Linked DNA regions of Homo sapiens: region 1 is linked to region 2. The links come from fine-mapping of genetic effects on gene expression. A gene starts in region 2. The other region holds a variant in brackets. All regions are shown on one strand. Distances are between the middles of the regions. Region 1 has its middle 80 kb from the start of LINC02190. Region 2 holds the start of AHSP (alpha hemoglobin stabilizing protein).

Region 1 (9,283 bases), 110 kb before region 2:
CAAGGATCAAAAATATAATTAGGCCTATGATGCTTGCATCCATACTAAATCTATAGAGTTATTTTTCTTGTTAGAATCCCCTAAACAATATCAGTATAACAACTACTGACATAGCATTTACATTGCATTAGGTATTATAAGTAGCCTAGATATGACTTAAAGTTCATGTGCATAGGTTATATAAAAATAGTGTACCATTTTATATAAGGCATTGAGCATCTACAGATTTTCATATTTGCAGGGATTTGAAAAAATCCACCATATATACTGAGAGACAACTGTAAATTATGTAAATCTATTTATAGAGCATTGTAAGAAAGAGCAAAATTATAGAGATGGAAAATGAGCAGTAGTGGCGAAAGGAAGGGATGGGGAAAGTTGTTTACTGAAAGGGACAGCATAAAAGAAATTTGGTGGGTGAAAAAAAGTTCTGTGTGGTACTCCAGTGGTGAAAGATGACTCTAGACCATTGTTAAAACCTGTTGAACTGTACACCACAAAGAACAAATTTTTCTGTATAAAATTTTTAAAAAATCAGGCCGGGTGCAGTGGCTCATGCCTGTAATCCCAGCACTTTGAGAGGCCGAGGTGGGTGGTACACCTGAGGTCAGGAGTTCAAGACCAGCCTGGACAACATGGTGAAACTCCATCTCTGAAATACAAAAATTAGCTGGGCATGGTGGCGGGCACCTGTAATCCCTGTAAGCTACTTGGGAGGCTGAAGCAGGAGAATTGCTTGAACCCCGGAGGTGGAGGTTGCACTGAGCTGAGATTGTGCCATTGCACTCCAGCCTGGGCAACAGAGCAAAACTCCATCCCAAAACAAATTTTTTTTAATAGACCAAGTTGCTGAAGAAATTCAGATAGAATATAGACAATGACAGATGAATTAAGCTATATTCCAAATGTATGACATACTGACTATTTCACCGGGGTTGGAGATGAAAAGTCCTGACCCAAGTAACTTTGGGAAAGATACGGGGTATTGCAAGAATCAAAATCTCTACACAAACACTAAACTATATTTCAACTTAATTGTTGAAATTCCTCTGTCAGGAAGATTTGTCTCTTCCCTCCCTCTTTCTTCCTTCCATTCTTCCTTCCTTTCCATTTCTTCTTTCTTTCTTTTCTTCTTTCTTTTTCTTTGAAACGGAGTCTCACTCTATCGCCCAGGCTGGAGTGCAGTGGTGCAAGCTCAGCTCACTGCAACTTCCGCCTCCTGGGATCACGTGATTCTCCTGTCTCAGCCTCCTGAGTAGCTGGGACTACAGGCATGCGCCCAGCTAATTTTGTACTTTTAGTAAAGACAGGGTTTCACCATATTGTCCAGGCTGGTCTCAAACTCCAGAAGTCAGATGATCCACCTGCCTCAGCCTCCCAAAGTGCTGGGATGACAGGCATGAGTCAACGTGCCCGGTTGGTATTTACTTTCTAATTATACATGGACCTTTACATAAATGCTTTGTGCATGCATGCAATTCTGTATGCATGTTATAATATCAATAAATATTAAATATTATGGGTTGGGTGTGGTGGCTCATGCCTGTAATCCCAACACTTTGGGAGGTCAAGACGGGTGGATCACAAGGTCAGGAATTTGAGACCAGCCTGACCAACATGGTGAAACCCCATTTCTACTAAAAATACAAAAATTAGCCAGGCATGGTGGTGCGTGCCTGTAATCCCAGCTACTCAGGAGGCTGAGGCAGGAGAAATACTTGAACCCAGGAGGTAGAGGTTGCACTGAGCCGAGATTATGCCATTGCACTCCAGCCTGGGCAACAGAGCGAGACTCCATCTCAGAAAAAAAAAACAAAAACAAAAAAAGAAAACATATTGGTTCTGGAGCCAAGATGGCTGAATAGGAACAGCTCCGGTCTACAGCTCCCAGCGTGAGCAACACAGAAGACAGGTGATTTCTGCATTTCCATCTGAGGTACTGGGTTCATCTCACTAGGGAGTGCCAGACAGTGGGCGCAAGACAGTGAGTGCAGCGTACCGTGCGGGAGCCAAAGCAGGGCGAGGCATTGCCTCACTCAGGAAGCGCAAGGGGTCAGGGAGTTCCCTTTCCTAGTCAAAGAAAGGGGTGACAGACAGCACCTGGAAAATCAGGTCACTCCCACCCCAATACTGCGCTTTTCCGATGGGCTTAAAAAACGGCGCACCAGGAGATTATATCCCACACCTGGCTCAGAGGGTCCTACGCCCACTGAGTCTCGCTGATTGCTAGCATAGCAGTCTGAGATCAAACTGCAAGGTGGCAGCGAGGCTGGGGGAGTGGTGCCCACCATTGCCCAGGCTTGCTTAGGTAAACAAAGCAGCCAGGAAGCTCGAACTGGGTGGAGCCCCCCATAGCTCAAGGATGCCTGCCTGCCTCTGTAGGCTCCACCTCTGGGGGCAGAACACAGACAAACAAAAAGACAGCAGTAACCTCTGCAGACTTAAATGTCCCTGTCTGACAGCTTTGAAGAGAGCAGTGGTTCTCCCAGCACGCAGCTGGAGATCTGAGAACGGGCAGACTGCCTCCTCAAGTGGGTCCCTGACCCCTGACCCCCGAGCAGCCTAACTGGGAGGCACCCCCCAGTAGGGGCAGACTGACACCTCACACGGCCGGGTACTCCTCTGAGACAAAACTTCCAGAGGAACGATCAGACAGCAGCATTCGCGGTTCACGAAAATCCGCTGTTCTTCAGGCACCGCTGCTGGTACCCAAGCAAACAGGGTCTGGAGTGGACCTCTAGCAAACTCCAACAGACCTGCAGCTGAGGGTCCTGTCTGTTAGAAGGAAAACTAACAAACAGAAAGGACATCCACACCAAAAACCCATCTGTACATCACCATGATCAAAGACCAAAAGTAGATAAAACCACAAAGATGGGGAAAAAACAGAGCAGCAAAACTGGAAACTCTAAAAAGCAGAGCACCTCTCCTCCTCCAAAGGAACGCAGCTCCTCACCAGCAACGGAACAAAGCTGGATGGAGAATGATTTTGATGAGTTGAGAGAAGAAGTCTTCAGACCATCAGACTACTCCGAGCTACAGGAGGAAATTCAAACCAAAGGCAAAGAAGTTGAAAACTTTGAAAAAAATTTAGACAAATGTATAACTAGAATAACCAATACAGAGAAGTGCTTAAAGGAGCTGATGGAGCTGAAAGCCAAGGCTCGAGAACTACGTGAAGAATGCAGAAGCCTCAGGAGCCAATGTGATCAACTGGAAGAAAGGGTATCAGTGATGGAAGATGAAATGAATGAAATGAAGAGAGAAGGGAAGTTTAGAGAAAAAAGAATAAAAAGAAATGAACAAAGCCTCCAAGAAATATGGGACTATGTGAAAAGACCAAATCTACATCTGATTGGTGTACCTGAAAGTGACAGGGAGAATGGAAGCAAGTTGGAAAACACTCTGTAGGATATTATCCAGGAGAACTTCCCCAATCTAGCAAGGCAGGCCAACATTCAGATTCAGGAAATACAGAGAATGCCACAAAGATACTCCTCGAGAAAAGCAACTCCAAGACACATAATTGTCAGATTCACCAAAGTTGAAATGAAGGAAAATATGTTAAGGGCAGCCAGAGAGAAAGGTCGGGTTACCCACAAAGGGAAGCCCATCAGACTAACAGCGGATCTCTCGGCAGAAACTCTACAAGCCAGAAGAGAGTGGGGGCCAATATTCAACATTCTTAAAGAAAAGAATTTTCAACCCAGAATTTCATATCCAGCCAAACTAAGCTTCATAAGTGAAGGAGAAATAAAATCCTTTACAGACAAGCAAATGCTGAGAGATTTTGTCACCACCAGGCCTGCCCTAAAAGAGCTCCTGAAGGAAGCACTAAACATGGAAAGGAACAACTGGTACCAGCCACTGCAAAATCATGCCAAAATGTAAAGACCATCGAGGCT[A/G]GGAAAAAACTGCATCAACTAACGAGCAAAATAACCAGCTAACATCATAATGACAGGATCAAATTCACACATAACAATATTAACTTTAAATGTAAATGGACTAAATGCTCCAATTAAAAGACACAGACTGGCAAATTGGATAAGGAGTCAAGACCCATCAGTGTGCTGTATTCAGGAAACCCATCTCATGTGCAGAGACACACATAGGCTCAAAATAAAAGGATGAAGGAAGATCTACCAAGCAAATGGAAAACAAAAAAAGGCAGGGGTTGCAATCCTAGTCTCTGATAAAACAGACTTTAAACCAACAAAGATCAAAACAGACAAAGAAGGCCATTACATAATGGTAAAGGGATCAATTCAACAAGAAGAGCTAACTATCCTAAATATATATGCACCCAATACAGGAGCACCCAGATTCATAAAGCAAGTGCTTAGTGACCTACAAAGAGACTTAGACTCCCACACAATAATAATGGGAGACTTTAACACCCCACTGTCAACATTAGACAGATCAACAAGACAGAAAGTTAATAAGGATACCCAGGAAGTGAACTCAGCTCTGCACCAAGCAGACCTAATAGATGTCTACAGAACACTCCACCCGAAATCAGCATAATATACATTTTTTTCAGCACCACACCACACCTATTCCAAAATTGACCACATAATTGGAAGTAAAGCTCTCCTCAGCAAATGTAAAAGATTGGAAATTATAACAAACTGTCTCTCAGACCACAGTGCAATCAAACTAGAACTCAGGATTAAGAAACTCTCTCAAAACCGCTCAACTACATGGAAACCGAACAATCTACTCCTGAATGACTACTGGATACATAACGAAATGAAGGCAGAAATAAAGATGTTCTTTGAAACCAACGAGAACAAAGACACAACATACCAGAATCTCTGGGACGCATTCAAAGCACTGTGTAGAGGGAAATTTATAGCATTAAATGCCCACAAGAGAAAGCAGGAAAGATCCAAAATTGACACCCTAACATCACAATTAAAAGAACTAGAAAAGCAAGAGCAAACACATTCGAAAGCTAGCAGAAGGCAAGAAATAACTAAAATCAGAGCAGAACTGAAGGAAATAGAGACACAGAAAACCCTTCAAAAAATTAATGAATCCAAGAGCTGGATTTTTGGAAAGATCAACAAAATTGATAGACCATTAGCAAGACTAATAAAGAAGAAAAGAGAGAAGAATCAAATAGATGCAATAAAAAATGATAAAGGGGATATCACCACCAATCCCACAGAAACACAAACTACCATCAGAGAATACTACAAACACCTCTACGCAAATAAACTAGAAAATCTAGAAGAAATGGATAAATTCCTGGACACATACACCCTCCCAAGACTAAACCAGGAAGAAGTTGACTCTCTGAATAGACCAATAACAGGCTCTGAAATTGTGGCAATAATCAATAGCTTACCAACCAACAAGAGTCCAGGACCAGATGGATTCACAGCCAAATTCTACCAGAGGTACAAGGGGGAACTGGTACCATTGCTTCTGAAACTATTCCAATCAATAGAAAAAGAGGGAATCCTCCCTAACTCATTTTATGAAGCCAGCATCATCCTGATACCAAAGCCGGGCAGAGACACAACCAAAAAAGAGAATTTTAGACCAATATCCTTTATGAACATTGATGCAAAAATCCTCAGTAAAATACTGGCAAAACGAATCCAGCAGTACATCAAAAAGCTTATCCACCATGATCAAGTGGGCTTCATCCCTGGGATGCAAGGCTGGTTCAATATATGCAAATCAATAAATGTAATCCAGCATATAAACAGAACCAAAGACAAAAACCACATGATTATCTCAATAGATGCAGAAAAGGCCTTTGACAAAATTCAACAACCCTTCATGCTAAAAACTCTCAATAAATTAGGTATTGATGGGATGTATCTCAAAATAATAAGAGCTATCTATGACAAACCCACAGCCAATATCATGCTGAATGGGCAAAAACTGAAAACATTCCCTTTGAAAACTGGCACAAGACAGGGATGCCCTCTCTCACCACTCCTATTCAACATAGTGTTGGAAGTTCTGGCCAGGGCAATTAGGCAGGAGAAGGAAATAAAGGGTATTCAATTAGGAAAAGAGGAAGTCAAATTGTCCCTGTTTGCAGACGACATGATTGTATATTTAGAAAACCCCATTGTCTCAGCCCAAAATCTCCTTAAGCTGATAAGCAACTTCAGCAAAGTCTCAGGATACAAAATCAATGTACAAAAATCACAAGCATTCTTATACACCAATAACAGACAGAGAGCCAAATCATGAGTGAACTCCCATTCACAATTGCTTCGAAGAGAATAAAATACCTAGGAATCCAACTTACAAGGGATGTGAAGGACCTCTTCAAGGAGAACTACAAACCACTGCTCAATGAAATAAAAGAGGATACAAACAAATGGAAGAACATTCCATGCTCATGGGTAGGAAGAATCAATATCGTGAAAATGGCCATACTGCCTAAGGTAATTTATAGATTCAATGCCATCCCCATCAAGCTGCCAATGACTTTCTTCACAGAATTGGAAAAAACTACTTTAAAGTTCATATGGAACCAAAAAAGAGCCCGCATCACCAAGTCAATCCTAAACCAAAAGAACAAAGCTGGAGGCATCAAGCTATCTGACTTCAAACTATACTTACTACAAGCCTACAGTAACCAAAACAGCATGGTACTGGTACCAAAACAGAGATATAGATCAATGGAACAGAACAGAGCCCTCAGAAATAATGCCACATATCTACAACTATCTGATCTTTGACAAACCTGACAAAAACAAGCAATGGGGAAAGGATTCCCTATTCAATAAATGTTGCTGGGAAAACTGGCTAGCCATATGTAGAAAGCTGAAACTGGATCCCTTTCCTTACACCTTATACAAAAATTAATTCAAGATGGATTAAAGACTTAAATGTTAGACCTAAAACCATAAAAACCCTAGAAGAAAACCTAGGCATTACCATTCAGGACATAGGCATGGGCAAGGACTTCATGTCTAAAACACCAAAAGCAATGGCAACAAAAGCCAAAATTGACAAATGGGATCTAATTAAACTAAAGAGCTTCTGCACAGCAAAAGAAACTACCAGCAGAGTGAACAGGCAACCTACAAAATGGGAGAAAATTTTTGCAACCTGCTCATCTGACAAAGGGCTAATATCCAGAATCTACAATGAACTCAAACAAATTTACAAGAAAAAAACAAACCCATCAAAAAATGGGCAAAGGACATGAACAGACACTTCTCAAAAGAAGGCATTTATGCAGCCAAAAGCACATGAAAAAATGTTCACCATCACTGGCCATCAGAGAAATGCAAATCAAAACCACAATGAGATACCATCTCACACCAGTTAGAATGGCAATCATTAAAAAGTCAGGAAACAACAGGTGCTGGAGAGGATGTGGAGAAATAGGAACACTTTTACACTGTTGGTGGGACTGTAAACTAGTTCAACCCTTGGGGAAGTCAGTGTGGCGATTCCTCAGGGATCTAGAACTAGAAATACCATTTGACCCAGCCATCCCATTACTGGGTATATACCCAAAGGACTATAAATCATGCTGCTATAAAGACACATGCACACATATGTTTATTGTGGCAGTATTCACAATAGCAAAGACTTGGAACCAACCCAAATGTCCAACAATGATAGACTGGATTAAGAAAATGTGGCACATATACACCATGGAATACTATGCAGCCATAAAAAAGGATGAGTTCATGTCCTTTGTAGGGACATGGATGAAATTGGAAATCATCATTCTCAGTAAACTATCGCAAGAACAAAAAACCAAACACCGCATATTCTCACTCATAGGTGGGAATTGAATGATGAGAACACATGGACACAGGAAGGGGAACATCACACTCTGGGAACTGTTGTGGGGTGGGGGTAGGGGGGGGAGGGATAGCATTAGGAGATATACCTAATGCTACATGACAAGTTAATGGGTGCAGCACACCAGCATGGCACATGTATACATACATAACTAACCTGCACATTGTGCACATGTACCCTAAAACTTAAAGTATAATTTAAAAAATTTAAAAAATAAAAAAATTAAAAATTAAAAAATTAAAAAAAAATAAAATAAATTTTAGAATTCATTTTTATTTCTGTGAAAACTGATATTGGAATTTTAACAGGGATTACATTGTATCTGTAGATCACTTTGTGTAGTGTGGACATTTCATCAGTATTAATTTTTCCAGTCCATGAACAAGGGATATCTTTACATTTATTTGTGTCTTTTTCAATGACATTTGTCTATGTCTTTTTTTTTTTTTTTTGAAATGGAGTCTTGCTCTGTCACCCAGGCTGGACTGCAGTGGTGCAATCTTGGCTCACTGCAACTTCTGCCTCCCAGGTTCAAGCCATTCTTCTGCCTCAGCCTCCCGAGTAGCTGGGACTACAGGCACCCGCCACCACGCCCAGCTAATTTTTTGTATTTTTAGTAGAGACAGGGTTTCACCGTGTTAGCCAGGATGGTCTTGATCTCCTGACCTCGTGATCTGCCTGCCTCGGCCTCCCAAAGTGCTGGGATTACAGACGTGAGCCACTGTGCCTGGCCCATCAATGTCTTATAGATTTTACTCAGCAGATCTTTCACCTCCTTTGTTAAATGGAATCATAAGAATTTTATACTTTTTGATGCTATTATAAATTGGATTGTTTGCTTAACTTTTTTTCTCAGATCATTTATTGTTAGTATATAGAAATGCAACTAATTTTTGTATGTTAATTTTGTGACCTCAGCTTTACTGAATGAGTTTATTAGCTCTAACTCTTTGTGTATACTCTTCAGGGTTTTCTATATATAAAATCACCTAATCTGCAAGCAGATAGAATTTTAATTCTTCATTGCCAATGTGAGTGCCTTTGATTTCTTTTTCTTACCTAATTGCTCTTGTTGCAGGGCTTGTGAGCCGCCAAATTGGGGCTTATCCTGGGAAGGTTCACGGCTTCACTCAGGAAGAATTCAAGTGCAAGATAGTGGTAGAAGAAAACAGCTTTATTGAGCTGGCAGTGTTGCAGCTCTATGAGTGCTCCTGTGGAGCGAGGCTCCCCTGTAGGCAGTGTGCTGAGAGGAGCAGTTCTGCAGTCATGTACTTATATACCCACTTTTCATTACATGCAAACTAAGGGGCAGTGTTTTTTCCCTTCAATTTTTTGGAAGAATTTGAGAAGGATGGACATTAATTCATCTTTAAATGTGTGATGCAATTCACCCATGAAGTCATTTGGTCATGGGCTTTTTCTCATTGGATTTTTTATTACTGCTTCAATCTCCTTTCTTATTATTGGTCTGTTCAGTATTTCTGTTTTTTGTGAT
Region 2 (9,283 bases):
AAAAAAAAAAAAAAAAAAAAAAAAAGAAGCCAGATGTGTCCAGCTTGTTCCAGTGGTCAGAATTGGGCACAGAGTTTTATCATAAGAACGTGTTGCAGCTACTAATAGGAGTAAAAAGAAAGAATTTACTACAATGATGTAGCAGACATTTGTAATGCAATGTGAATATTTTGTTGTACAGATGGGGGTGGGGTGTCTTGCTGTGTTGCCCAGGCTAGTCTCAAATGCCTGACCTCAAGTGATCCTCTCAACTCAGCCTCCCAAAGTGCCAGGACTACAGGTGTGAGCAAATTGCTGAGTCTTGATGAGGGTAAGGGTCATGTTCCAGGGTCAAAGTCCAGCTGAGAGTCATCGTGAGGATCAGAGTGGGGGTCAGTGTCAGAGTGAGGATAAGGAGTGTGAGGCAAACATTCAAAGCCTGGGTCAGGGCGAGGGTCAGAGTCAGTTTCAGGGTCAGAGTTCATCACAGAGTGAGAAAGACTTAGTGCCAGGGTCAGGCTGAGTGTGTAGTTCAGGCTCAGCATAAGTTTCAGATTCACAGCAGGTTCAAGGACATGGTGAAGGTATGGATAAGGGTCCTTATAGAGTCAGGGTGAGGTCAGGATCAAGGAGACCATAAGGGTCAAGTCAGGGTCAGTGGAAAGTAAGCAGCAGAGTCAGGGTCAGGTAAGGGTCAGATTTATGGTCATGATGAGGGTTATGGTGACATTAAGATTTCCAGGCCAGGGGAGGGTCAAGTTGAGTGCCACTGTAGGGTTAGCTTCAATGTTCGGTTGGGATTAAGGGTGATGCTAAAACTGAAGGCAAAAGTGAGGGTCCGGGTCAAGTACAGAATCAGGGTCAGGGTGAGAACGAGATAGAGTGTGTAAGTGACAGTCAGGATCAGGGTCTGGTGAGTGTCACAGTCAGATGCAAGGTGAGAGTGAGCACCAGGGTAAGGCTCAGGTGTGAAGGAGGGGGTGGTGTCAGAACGAGAGCAAGGTCAGAGTCAAGGTGAGAGTGTATGCTTCAGGGTCAAGAGTCATGGTTAAAGGCCAGGTGCAGTGGCTCACACCTGTAGTCCCAGTGCTTTGGGAGGCTAAGGTGGGAGGCTTGCTTGAGGCCAGGGGTTCAAGACCAGCATGGACAACATAGTGAGACCCCATCTCTACAAAAAATACAAAAAAAAATAGCCAGGCATAGTGGCATGCACCTGTGGTCCCAGCTACTCAGGAAGCTGAGGTAGGAGGATCGCTTGAGCTCTGGAGGTCAAAGTTGCTGTGAGCCATGCTGGCACCACTGCACTACAGCCTGGGTGACAGAGCAAGACCCTGCCTCTTTAAAAAAAAAAAAAGTCATAATTATGATCACTGTCTAGGTCAAGTTGAGGATCAAGGGTCAGGGTCATAGTGAGGGTCAGAGTCAACATCATGCTAAGGGAAGGGTCAGTGAAGGTCAATTTCAGGGTAAGGGTCAGGGTAGGATTCAGGTTGAGGGTCAGAGACAGGGTGAAAATTAGGATCAGGTAAAGTTTAGGGTCCAATTCAGCATCAGGATCAGTATAAGAATGAGAATGAGAGGCAATGTCAGTGTGAGAGTCAGGGTCATTGTGAGGGCAAGGTGTCCATTATGATCAGGGGCAAGATGAAGCTAGAGGTGAGGCTCAAGTTCAGGGTCAGCTCTAGGTCAGGTTCAATATGAGGGTGAGGATAAGGGCAGGGTTATGGCTATAATGTTTTACCATTTATTTACAATCTTATTTCTAGTATTAATTCAGATACTGCTAAGCAAAAGAAGGTTATTCTTACTAATTCTAATTTATTTTCCTTCAGGAACAGTAATGGATTTGGGGCACTCTCTGCTTTAGTTATTTTATTTTTATTATTATGAACCATCAGGTTCATATCACCGTCTCTGAAAAATCAAAATATCCCCAATTTTACTTCTTGTAGATTTATAACCAGTCACTTCGTTGATAGTAATATGAGAGCAGAAAGTGCAGGTAACAGATTTTTCTGTCTTAAAAATATTTTTTGCAGCTTCTCAATTGCACAAGCTTATGGAATGGTCGGAATGGAGTTTCAATGTTGAACTTCCCAGTGAGAATCTTTTCTACCTTACACCTGTAATTGGTCATTTTCCTTTGAGCACCTGAGAAGTGCTTAGCTCAGCAGCTCCCATAGCTGGATAGTTATAAAGGTATGGAAAATTCCTCTTCATGAATTGAGCCAAAGCGGCTTCTAACATTCTTTTCAGCTAAGCTGAAAGACAAATACAGTGGTCCCTCCGTATCTGTGGGTTCCGCATCTGTGGATTCAACCAACCAAGGATGGAAAATATTTGGGGAGAAAAATGGATGGTTGCCTCTGTACTGAACATGTACAGGCTTTTTTTCTTGTCGTTACTCCCTAAATAATACAGTGTAACAACTATTTGCACAGCATTGACGTTGTAGTCGGTATTGTAAGTAATCTAGCCATGATGTGAAGTCCACGAAGAGATGTGCGTGGGTTACATGCAAACATTTCGCCATTCTGCATAAGGCACCGGAGCGTTGTGCTGTGCGCTCTCCTAGCGTCCCCCACTCACTTTCCTCCACCCACACACACCAGGCCAGGTCTCTCTTGCAAAGGTGAGGCTGCCGACTACTGTCCCGCCTGAGCGGGCTCTGGTCCTCACTCACAGACTGAGATTTCCTGAGAGGTGCCGTGGAGAAGGCCCCAGACTCTGCCTGGACCACCGACCCCAACCCAGAGGAGCTCGCCGCCTGCTTCCCTGGGAGGCGCCACTCTCCCAAGCTGGATCTAGGGCCGACCACACCCCAGGGTTGGAAGCACCGCTGGGGACACTGAGCGGGTTCCCTTTCCACCCTGATCCAGGCTGCAGAGACCTACAAAACAACAGTCGGTTCACAAGTCCCAGAGGAAAGCTTGCTGGAGGTTGGAACGAGGAGCAATCCCTCTGGGCCCCAAACTTTTCCCGCGTTAGAGAGAACACCGAAAAGGTCCAGAACTGCGCCCTCCAGCTCCCCGCGCGCACCCTGAGCCGCGTCTGATTGCTGTGCGGCGCCTCCTAGCCGCGCCCCCGCCCCGCGCACCCCCGCCCCCGCTCAGCACCCCGGGAACCCCCTCCCCCCGCGCGCCCCCGCCCCGCGCACCCTCCCCCGGAGGGCCCTCCCCTCTGCGCGTGGAGGCTTTTCCTGGAGACTGCGCCGCGGGTCTAACACCTTCATTTCGTTTTTAAAAAGCTCTTGAGTCTGGCCCGTCCCTGGTTCCGCCCAGAGCCCTAAAATAGAGGCTTCGAGTCTGGAGGTCTGGGAGAAAGGGAGCTAGACCGGGAATTGATCTGAGAAGCTTGGGGTGGGGGGAAGGCGGATTCCTCTGCTTCCCAATCCTGGCATCTGCGCCCAGGGATGTTGGAGCCAAAGGGAAGTGGCTTCCCCTCCTGAAATATAAGGGGCGCGCTAAAGGGTTCCCAGGATCCCTTCCAACTCTAAATTCCTGCGATGCCTGGGGCTCCGGGGAGGTATTTTGCGGTAGTCAGAGTCCGAAGATCCTAGAATGTAGTTTGAGCTGGGGCTAAGGACAGGGGATTGAAAAGTCGAGGCGGTGGACCTGGCGCAGGATGAACAAGACTGGGAGACTTCCAACAGTTTCCTCCTCGACAAGCAGGTCACAGGACAATGTCTGGAGGACTTCTATCCCCCTTTCTTGTTTCTGCCACCCCCTCCCCTGCAGCTCTGCACTCTCTCTAGTCCCGCCTTCCTGGCCCTCGTTCAGCCTGTTTTAGTTTAGAATCGCTGCCCGGTGGTCACTCAAGGCTGCTAACCTCTGCTGTAAGGAATTAAGCTTCCAAGAGCATATCTAAGAAGGAGGGCGGAAGGAAAGGGACCGAGTGCCTCCACATGTCAGGACAGACCATGAAAGAGAAGCCAGGAAGTCCAACAAAACCAGCACTGGTCTTTATTGAGGTGTCAGGGTAGAGTGGCAGGAGCACAGCCTAAGGACATGAAGGTCAGAGTTTCTCAGAGAGGAGGGGCTGGGTCCCTGAGCTAGGAGGAGGGCGGTGGGTGACTCGGGAGCTCATGAGACTTCAGGAAGTCCCTGTACTTGGCCAGGAAAGGGTTGGCCAGAGTGTTCAGCTCTTGCCGAAGCTCCTGCAGAGCCTTGTCTCGCTCTTGGGGCTCCCCTGTCACCTGCTGCCTGTAATAGTTGATGTAGAAGTTCATCCAGTCCTCCACCACAGTCACCATGTCTTCTTCAGAGACGAGAGGATCATTGAAGACCTGGGGGGTTGCGGAGAGGCAGTTGGCAAGGGAGAATGTGGTCAGCAATGGGATTCGGGAATACTAGAATAGTGCCACAGCACCAACTCTCACATTCTCTTTCCTCTGCATTGTATCCCGTGTCTCTCGTTGTTTCCATCAACTCCACCATTACTTCACCAGCTCCAATTATCCTCTTCCTCCACTTCCCCGGCACCCCCCAGTCTCCAGGCCAGTCCTTTGAAATGGAAAGCTTGGACTCACCTGCTGATTCAGCAGAACGCTGAACTCCTTCAATCCTGCGGAAATGAGATCCTTATTGGCCTTAAGAAGAGCCATCTGCCTGGGTAGAGAAAAGGGTAGAATTTACATATCTGTTTCCCTCCTCACTGGGTATTTCCCCCAACCCACTTCCTCCCCTTAAAAATCCCTCCTGCCCTGCAGGGCTATCTCCTTTCCAAAACCTTTCACATCCTGCCCTGCTCTGAGGTCACGATTTTCCCAGGTTGGGCTCACCTTCAGGTCTAACAGGCTGTATATGTCTCACCCACACTCTTGAGGGTGCGTGAATCTCTCTGTGCCAAGCTATAGATGTAGGCAAGGAGTCAAGTGTCAGCCTAAGATAGAAACGCCCTGCATCTAGGTCCTGAAGGAGGGTGATAGGTCATTCTAGGGAGGAGAAGAAGGGAGAGGCTTCCCTGAAGGTAGAAAGATAACAAGGCCAAAAAAAAAAAAAAAAAAGATAAATGAGGAAACCCAGGAAATGCAAGAAGGCAAGAGCCAAACCAGGGGCATGTTCCTGCTTTTTGCCCCATATTTCAGTATCCAGGCTCGAAATGCTATGGAAATTGACGTTTACTGAGCCCTATTACATGACAGAGGCTTTTGTGTAATCACAACGATGTGATCGCAATGATTCTCCCAATTCGGAGATGATGTATTAATAGCAGCTTGCATTACATTTATTCATTTGTGCCAAGCACTGTTTCAAACATGTACAAAATATTTATCCTATAAAATTTCTTTTTAGACACATTTTGCAGATAAGCCACCTGTAAGCGTGTGGACTGAACTCCACCACGCTGTGCTCCATAAGAATGGAGATAAATAGCCGGGCGTGGTGGCGGGCACCTGTAGTCTCAGCTACTTGGGAGGCTGAGGCACGAAAATCGCTTGAACCCAGGAGGCAGAGGTTGCAGTGAGCCAAGATCACACCACAGCACTCCAGCCTGGGTGACAGGGCGAGACTCCATCTCAAAAGAAAAAAAAGAATGGAGATGGATTTGTCTTGTTTACTACCCTGTCAACAGGTACCCAATAAAGCAGAAATACTCTTTTTCCTCTTTTTAAATATTTTTCCAGATATTTTCCATTTTCAGTAGATGTTTCTCAAATTTCAAAATCACTATATACTAATTGAAATAATTAAAACAATACAAAAACGTACACTGAAAAACTGAATCATTTTTGCCCCCTCCAAAGTAACCAGCATTAAACATTGTATATTTCCTGTCACTTTTTTTTTCCATTCAAAACCCAACATTCATAGGTGCCTATACACTCATAAAGCTTTGTTGATTTGCCTTTTTGGTTGTAGCATTTTTTAATCAATATACAGCAAAACTGACTTCCTTTTGGTGTACAGTATATTAAATTTTTTTTTTTTGAGAGGGAGTCTCCCTCTGTGGCCCAGGCTGGAGTGCAGTGATGCGATCTCAGCTCACTGCAAACTTTACCTCCCAGGTTCAGGCGATTCTCCTGCCTCAGCCTCCCAAGTAGCTGGGATTACAGGCGTGCATCACCACGCCTAGCTAATTTTTGTATTTTAGTAGAGATGGGGTTTCACCATGTTGGCCAGGCTAGTCTCGAACTCCTGACCTCAAGTGATCGACCCACCTTGGCCTCCCAAAGTGCTGGGATTACAGGTGTGAGCTACCGCATCTGGCCTAGTTTATTAATTTTATAACAGATTTGTGTAACTACAAACGCAGTTAAGATACAGAATGTTTCTGTCACCCAAAAACCACTCCTTCACGTTACCCTTTTGTAGCCACCCCTACCCTCACCCATAACTTCTGGCAACCACTTATCTGTTCATCACTACAGTTAAGCCTTTTTCAGGATGTCATATAAATGGAATCATACAGTATGTAACCTTTGAGACTGACTTTTTTTGGTCAGCATGATGTTCTTGAGCTCCATCCAAGTTGTCACAAGTGTCAGTGGACACATTGCATTGTATGGATGCACTGTAGTTTGTTCATTCAGCCACGGAAGGACATCTGGATTGTTTGTACTTTGGGGCAAGTGTGAATAGAGTTGCTATAAACATTTGTGTACAGGTTTCCATGTGAACATGTTTTCATTTATATAGGGTGGAAAGTATGTGTTACCGGCCAGGCACGGTGGCTCCCATCTGTGATCCCAGCACTTTGGGAGGTCAAGGCAGGCAGATCACTTGAGGTCAGGAGTTCGAGACCATCCTGGCTAACATGGCGAAACCCCCTCTCTACTAAAAATACAAAAATTAGCCAGACATGGTGGCATGCACCTGTAATCCCAGCTACTTGGGAGGCTGAGGCAGGAGAATCGCTTGAACCCAGGAGGAAGAGGCCGCAGTGAGCGAAGATCACGCCACTGCACTCCAGCCTGGGTGACAGAGTGAGACCTTGTCTCTAAATAAATAAATAAATAAATAAATTTATTATCTTACAGACTTAGAGGTCAGAAATCTAAAATGAGACTCACTAGGCTAAAATTAAGTTGTCCTCTAGGCTGTGTTCCCCTTGGAATCTCTGAAAAAGAGTTCTTTTTCTTTCCTCTTCTAGTCTATAGAAGAACCCACATTCTTTCACTCCTGGTCCCTTTCCAGCTTGAAAGCCAGCAATGACCACCAGGTCCAGTCTTTCTCACATCACACCAGGCCGACTGTCTCCTACATCCTTTCACTTCTAAATAATTTTTCTTAAATATTTCTTTAAAAATAATTCATTACCAGATGGGAAAGATCAAGATCCCAATGCCCTTCCAAAGCTCATTAAGGAAAAGTTTCAGGAAGGTCTCTGGTACATGCCAGGAAACTCAAAAGAGATGGTGCTGCCTCAGATGGCTTAGAAGACCATGCTGCCAAGAACACATCTAACATTGAAGCCACGCACAGTGGCTCATGCCTGTAAGAGGCAGAGACGGCAGGATCGTCTGAGCCCAAGGGTTCAAGACCAGCCTGGGCAACATAGTGAGACCCCATCTTTTAAAAAAAAAAGGAAAAAAAAATCTAATTTTGTTCATTCCTCAAAATTTCCTGGCACAGTTGGAACTAATCTAACTACCTGGACTATAATGAATTGCAGAGTAAAATTAGTGAGATGTAGTGAAGAATTGAAGTCTCCTCCCTCAACCAGTGTCTTGAGAATAGCAGGGGAAACTGATTCCCTTTCAGCATGCTAGATACATCAATAAAGGAAGGGTTGAACGTGAGATTACAAAAACACATTTGCTAAAGAATTGTAGAAAACCAGGATCACAAACTCATTCTGCAACAGAAAAATAAAGCACTGCTGATTTACAGAGGAATTCACTTCTGGTGATGTCTCTTAAAAATTAAGAAACCTAATAGGAACTCCCTCATCGAGGCAGGCTCTGCTTCAGCTGAACAAGAAATTAGCCAGAGGGAGGAAAAGAGAACTGTTTGGACTTCCAGGAAGGCCTCTCCTTCCACCGAGAGGACTGCAATGAAGACCTCAATCATCAGGGAAAGAAGAGCCTTCTCCAGAAATCTGATTGGAATTGATGACCCAAATCCCACTCAGTCAACGCAAAACCCTGACTTGCTCGTGGCAGTACCAGGTTGGAGTCAGGGCAAAAAGGTTGTAGATTTCATGTTACATAGTTTGGCCCATGGTTTCCCCTGTGAACATTTTGGGAGGGAGGTGAGAGCTGAACTGGTTAGGTGGAACCTTGGTCTTATTTCCTGGAGATGTGACGTTTTTGGGGCCTGTTCCTGCTGTGACTGGCACAGCAATCAGGACCTGCAGCCTCCAGAGGGTCCCAGGGCTGGGGAGGAGACATGAGCCTTGCGCATCTGAAGGTCAGCGTCTTGGCAGCATGGCTACTCGCAAGAGGGAGGAGCTCACTCTGGATCCATTCGAGAGAGACTTGTCCCTTCCCCCTCTTCTGCCCCACCCCTGGGCCACTTTCCTGTCCCCTGACTCCCACTTGACTTTGTTTTCACTAATTGGAGCTTAGCTCAGAAAATGGAGGGGGCTGAAGTTATAGGTTATGGGAGGGGAAATTTAAGTTTGGGAAGACAGAGGCTCCCTTGATTGGCACTATCAGCCACATCTGCAGCCACATGAGGGTCTCAATGCTGGGGCAGGGGGCAGTGAGACTGGCCAGGAACCTGAGTCCCCCGGGGACTCGCAGACACCTGCCCCACACATCCTGAGTGTGCTGAGGGAGACCCAGCCGAGATCAGCTGTGCTCCTGGGTAGGTGAGAGCAGGCCCTGCAGGGGGCCCAGTCCACCCAGGAAGGATGCCCAGAGTGGCTGAGTGTGCACCTCCCTCTTCTGCCTCTCCTTTTCCGCTGCAAGCAAGACCGGGGGTCAGGAGTTACAGGTGCCAGAGTCCAGAACGGGCCCCTCCTCCCCAGCAATGTGGGTGGGGTCAGGGGCTCAGGTCAAATTCAAGGAAAATCTTCAAGCCACATGGTGTAGAGCCAAAGCTAAAGAGGCCGCCCTAATAATAGACAGCAGCAGCCCCTTACAGATATGCTCAGACTCATAGGGTCTCAAAATGCAATTCTCCACAGTAGAAAGGACATCTGCCCTGACAGAAGACTGCACTCCTAGATAAACAGGGGTCATCTGGCCCATTATTTAAAGGTAGACCCGTATGTTCAGATTATGTTAGTGGAATAAAATTCATGACATGAACATTTTCTTTGGAAAGAAACATCCCTTAAATGGCTCCTGGAGCCTAAAACATCCTCTGGAACTCCCTTGAGGCCATGTACGTCATGACTGCTAAAATTATGATGAGAA

Evidence for each region. PIP is the estimated chance that this variant, and not a neighbour inherited with it, causes the effect.
Region 1: its variant is the best candidate, but not a certain one, in a credible set for the expression of AHSP in whole blood (INTERVAL, PIP 0.77).

What each region holds. Positions count from the first base shown.
Region 1 is chr16:31,628,580-31,637,862 of GRCh38, reverse strand. No RefSeq gene overlaps it. Among named protein-coding and RNA genes, the nearest start is that of LINC02190, 80 kb to the right of the region's middle. The variant A/G (reference allele first, on the strand shown) is at 3,906.
Region 2 is chr16:31,523,439-31,532,721 of GRCh38, reverse strand. It overlaps AHSP (alpha hemoglobin stabilizing protein), which reads right to left and starts at 4,822. Exons shown (of 3, transcript NM_016633.4): 1 at 4,760-4,822; 2 at 4,508-4,586; 3 at 3,919-4,264. The coding sequence starts at 4,582. The coding sequence ends at 4,031.